2 separate regions of the Homo sapiens genome follow, and region 2 is linked to region 1. Evidence: fine-mapped expression QTL. A gene starts in region 1. The other region holds a variant in brackets. All regions are shown on one strand. Distances are between the middles of the regions.

Region 1 (3,031 bases):
AGAAGACAAGCACACTTTCATGGCACTGTTTCCTCATACCGTTGAAGAGACACCTCCTAGCTTAATTGTTTCCACTGTGGTCCCTGAATCTTCAACAGCTGCCTTCTTCTCAGGAGGCATGGAGGTGCCAGGTTCTCCAGCTGCTCTTTTATTTCCAATTCCTGACATTTTGGCAGAAGAAGACAGTCGTTTTCCTGATAGAAAAAAAGGCAGAAACTGACATAATATATGTAAGCAAAGCAACAATAGAGTAAAACAATAGAGTAAAAACTAGCAACTTTTCTGGCCAACCCTTTAACCTGGATCCATTAATTCCACAACCATCTCCATATTTCTCTTTGAGGAAAAAAAAAAAAAATTAAATTGTAGAGTAAAAGTCAAGGCGGGCCGGGCGCGGTGGCTCATGTCTGTAATCCCAGCACTTTGGGAGGCCGAGGCGGGCGGATCAAGAGGTCAGAAGATCGAGACCATCCTGCCTAACACGGTGAAACCCCGTCTCTACTAAAAATACAAAAAATTAGCCAGGCGTGGTGGCGGGCGCCGGTAGTCCCAGCTACTCGGGAGGCTAAGGCAGGAGAATCACTTGAACCCGGGAGGCGGAGCTTGCAGTGAGCCGAGATCGCACCACAGCACTCCAGCCTGGGCAACAGAGCGGGACTCCGTCTCAAAAAAAAAAAAAAAAGAAAGTCAAGGCTAAATTTACATGACTATAAATTTCTAAATAGGATGGTGATAAGAATGGTGATAAGAAATGAGACAATGGGCAAAGGGTGAAGAGACCAAAAATAAAGTTCTGGAATCTCTCTTCCTGTAATGCCAAAATCAGAAAAGGGCAGTTTGATTATGCCAGAAGTTAATACTACAGTGTTGAAAGAATCACAGAGCTGAAAGAGATCTGTGAAATGCCTACTAAAGTCATTAGTACTAGACAAGTCAGTTATCATCTCTAAGCCTCAGTTTCCTAACCCAGGAATAAATAACCACAGTATATACTTCCTATGCTTATTATAAAATAAAATGGATGATATAATTATAGAAAGAATTTGGCACAAAGCCGAACACAAAGTAAGCACTCAGAAACCCCAGCTCTTCTTTAACGTTTGCAGTGTTTTCCCTATTTCCAAACGCTCTCTCCACTGTTTTATGCAACCCTACGTTAGTTAGACCTGGGTGCGAATTTCAGTTCTGCCTGTTAGAGGCCGTGTTGCTTTGAAACAGTGAATTCGCCAAGAGCTTCAGTTTCCTCAACTGCACAATATTAACGAATATATTTTTCGTCTGCCCTGCCTACCTCCCAGGGTGCTCAAAGGAGGCGGAATGGATGCTAAAGCACTTTGGCTACTTCAGGAAACAACGCAGCCATCACCGAGACTAACAAGACTACTCTGCTTCCAATTCAAGCTCCAGGAGAGGACTATCGCTGGCAACAACCTCAGTAGGACCTCGCCTGGAGAGAGAAGACACAGAAGCAGAACAAGGCTGCAATCCAACTCGCTAAAAGCCAAAGACCTCAGCCTCAGCGTGGATAATTGCAGGCCCAGGAGACTGACGGCCCCAAAACTGGAGAGGGTGGAGACTCCTGAGGCCTGGCACAGTCCTGTTGGGCCCTAAGCGTGATCTAACCTAAGTTCTTTGAACTGGCGCCGCGCGGGAACAGAACTCGCAGCAGTTACTCACCAAGGCCCGTGCAGAGATTCCAGCTCTCACCCCTGACCCGCGGCGGAGACAAGGCAGAACTTCCGGGAGGCGGGGCCACGGAGAGGAAAAAGGGAAAGAAAAAAGGAAGTGGCTTCAACCCAGCCCATAGGACTATGAGACCCCGCCGGGCGGAAGTGACGTACGGAGAGGGCACGAGAAGCTTGAGCAAGCGCCGCCTCCCTAGCAACGCTGGGCAAGCGCGGGACCCTCTCCTGGCTACGACCTCTAAGAGTACTCGGGCCTCGCTGATGCCTGACGGAGAGCCCTTGGCTTTTGTTGACTTGTTGACCTTTGCTACTGCGATCTGGTCTTTCTGCGGGGATAAAGTTCCTCATTCTGTTGCTTGTCATTGGGGTTGCCATCACTCGTTCAGACGGCCGATTGGCTGACGGTCCCGTCAATCTCCGGGGACATGACTAGCCTCAGACACCTCAGAAAATTGTTCGTTGGTACCCCTACGTGCTGAAATGAAGAGTTCTGGAGAGAATCTGAGGGATTTGAGGAATTTCAGATGTTGGGGATTTTTTCCCCCGCACAGGGAGCGGTATTCTGCCCTGTCTACACATTAGAATCACTTGGCCTGGACAAAAGCTTTTTTAAAAAAGCGTTCCCCTCATCTCCTCCCCCCAAACCCCGCATTTCCATCCACTAGATTCTAATGCGTAAGCAGGAGTGACAACTACTGCCCTTGTGCTTTTTTGGGAACAAGAAATTGTCCAGGGAAAAGATAAACGCCAATCAGTCTCTGATCTCAGTACTAGTCTATTTTAAGCTAATTAAGCATTGATTTTTTTTTTTAAGTTTATGACAAACTGCTATTTTCCATTCAGTTAAACTAAATGCGTTTTAATGATAGGACGGTAATTAATCTAACCTATTAATGAAAAGCTGTATGTCTCGCAGAACTATGATAAACTACCTAATGACGTCAGCTAAGGGTCTAGAAATGGAAGAATGATCGCTATATCTTTTTTAAAAAATAGAATTTAGGCATCTTGGGAAAAAAAGAAGCTAATCTACACTGGATTTCTGTTAGTGTGAAGACTTTTGTCCCTGTACCTGCTAGGGCTTACCTGTAAATGAAGTAAGATGGTCAACACCAGGGAAACAAGTGTTCCTGGTGCCTGGCAGTGGAACACCTTGACTATCTTGGAAAGAATTAACTGGCCCCAAGTGGACTTCACATTTCATTCCGTGAAGTGGGAGCCTGAGAACATGTGAGTGGGGACACACCTGCCGAAAAGCATTGTATGAGACAATGACACTCATTCTCTCATCTTCTTTGGTTCCTCTACTCTTAGCAAGCCTTTCATTCATAGAACTACTGAATGGC
Region 2 (2,500 bases), 42 kb before region 1:
GCCTCAGATGAGGGCACACCTCTCATCATAACAGAAGAAAAAGGGATGGAAAACAGGATTCTTTTTGTTTGTATCTTTTCTGGGACTGCTGCAGTCCCCTTCTATGCAGTCTCCATCTAGCTTGTTGGAATCATTTCCTTTATCTCTTGAAGTATCTCTTTCCAGTCAATGAGCACTCTCCCCTCCCCTCTCAGTCTGTGGTATTCCTGCATCATATTGCAAGTGTGTTAGTGACAAGCTGTATACTAGTCCAGTCACAGCTGTTCCATGACATGTTACATCTATTTTTTCTATTTTTAACATAAATTTTTAATAACAGTAACACAAGAAGACATAGCAGCAAATGTATCATCTTACAATGAAAAAATATTTGTTTTCCAGCTATAATAGAAACAGGAAGCCCAATGATCCCATCTCCAACTGTGATATGATTCATATTCACATCTTTCTCACATAAATTGAAAACCATTTGTGTCTTTTGATGCAACTTACCCAGTTTTCTTGGCAGATTCCCTTCCTGAACCCCTTATTTTGAGGATCTAAGGAGAACAGGTGTTCATGGTTTAGCTTGGGCTCACATTTCCTGTGCCTACCTCTATACAACCCAACATTAGCAACCTGTCAAACACAATGAGTGTTTGGCGTACCATAGCCGTCATGTCTCTTTGGAATAGTCCAGTGGAGTATTGAACCTCAGTGTTACATAATTGCTCCAGGGAAGCCTATTTTACCCATTTTTAGTGTTAAATACAGCTCACTCACTGGTCATGTAACACTCTAAGACTGACGAAGGCTTGAATCAAAGCAAAGCCTAAATGTTACTGAGGCTAGGAGTATAACACCAGCCTTGGGTTATTTTTTCCAAGTAGACACTGAGTCTTACACTCAGCATTTGTCACCTTGCACTCATAGGTACCCACATCAAATATCAGATGCCTGGTGATACTAGCAACTAGAATTTGGCACAAAGTCCAGCATTTGTTTATTCTTCTATATTATATTACCAGATAGATATACAAAGCTCTGGAGAAGACCAGTCCAGCTATCTTTACTTACCTTATCACTGTGGCTGTCTAGACAGTTGAAGAAAATGTGTAGATGCTCTACTCTCAGGTTTTCCCTGCTATGAACCATTGTAGGGCATTAGAATGCTCTCCCTCTCTTCTCTTGGAAGTATATCTATGCAAATGCTCATGCATGCTACAACTTGACATCCCTCCTCTGTGCCCCATATTTACTGAACAAATAAAAGAGCAAATAGATAAATGAATGAATTATTAACATGGGTTTGAGGAAATGCTTGGAGAAATTTTGGGCCATGATATGGAAGTAGGTATTGTCCCTTTCTCATTTAATGCAAAGAAAATAAGGTACATATTGCAGGAGATGATTTATATATAGCCCTGGGTTTATTCAACATGTGATTTCACATAAGGTTTTGGTCTATCTTTCATCTCACTGGGTTCCCAATCAATACATG[T/C]CACCCCTGTTTTCCCTTTCCTCTCACCCCAAGACACACAAAAATTACAAACTACATAACAGCACAACCAAGATTACTTTAAGATTATTCAAATTCAATAGGAAAAGATTTGAAGAAAAAAATTAAAGGGAATTATAAAGCTAGAAGAAAAATTACATCTCCTCTCTGACTCAGGTCTAAAGCCAATGGAGCTATAAGTGGGTTCATTACAGAACTTTTACCCAGCCCAGGATACAAGAAAACTGAGCTCTGGTACCCTCTGCTCATTTATATAAAACTTAGACTATGAGGCATGTTAAAGAACCACAGGGTGGTTTGGAGTGTGTGTTTCAATGGCTTGGGTCATGTATAAGTTGGTCTTTGCTATGTGATAAATCATCCCAATACTTAATGTTTTAAACAACAGCAAGTTGCTTACTAATTCATGGATCAACTGTGCAGTTTGCTGATCTGAGCCAGACTTGGCTGAATTTGGCTGGGTTTGCTCATATGTCTGTAGCCAACTTTGGGGGATGGGGAAAGCAGCTAAGGGCTGTCTGGTCTATGATGGCCTCAGCTAGTCAACTGGGAAGCCTGAGGATTCTCTCCATATGGTCTACCATCATGCAGCAGGCCATTCTGGACTTGTTCACATTGCAGCAGCAGGGTTCCAAGAGAGTGGAAATGTGCAAGACTTCTTAAAAGTTTAGGCTTGGAACTGCCACTCTGATATGTCTGCCACTTTCTGTTGCCCAAAACAAGTTGTGAGAACACTCCTAACTGAAGCGGGGAGGAAAGCAGATTCAGCATAGGTACAAGCTGCAAAGTCACATTACAGAGGGCATAAATGAAAGGAGAAAAGAAGGTTTATGGCCACTTTTACATAAAGACTTTATTATTCTTCTCTTTCCCCTTCTCCTTCCAGATTGTCCCCTTCTCCTGGCAAGTAAGAGTCCAGGAAAAAAGTCAATTCAGTTACATGAATGGGAACAAAAACACAATGGCTTGGTAGGGTGTTTCTATTTAGTTTTGTCCTGTGGT

Evidence for each region. PIP is the estimated chance that this variant, and not a neighbour inherited with it, causes the effect.
Region 2: its variant is the best candidate, but not a certain one, in a credible set for the expression of RNF20 in monocytes (TOPMed, PIP 0.75).

Annotation. Positions count from the first base shown.
Region 1 is chr9:101,532,561-101,535,591 of GRCh38, reverse strand. It overlaps RNF20 (ring finger protein 20), which reads right to left and starts at 1,739. Exons shown (of 20, transcript NM_019592.7): 1 at 1,678-1,739; 2 at 40-194. The coding sequence starts at 168. It also overlaps a transcript of PGAP4 not described here. RefSeq lists an enhancer at 1,868-1,997.
Region 2 is chr9:101,574,443-101,576,942 of GRCh38, reverse strand. All of the region lies in intron 8 of GRIN3A (glutamate ionotropic receptor NMDA type subunit 3A), which reads left to right. Among named protein-coding and RNA genes, the nearest start is that of PPP3R2, 19 kb to the left of the region's middle. The variant T/C (reference allele first, on the strand shown) is at 1,481.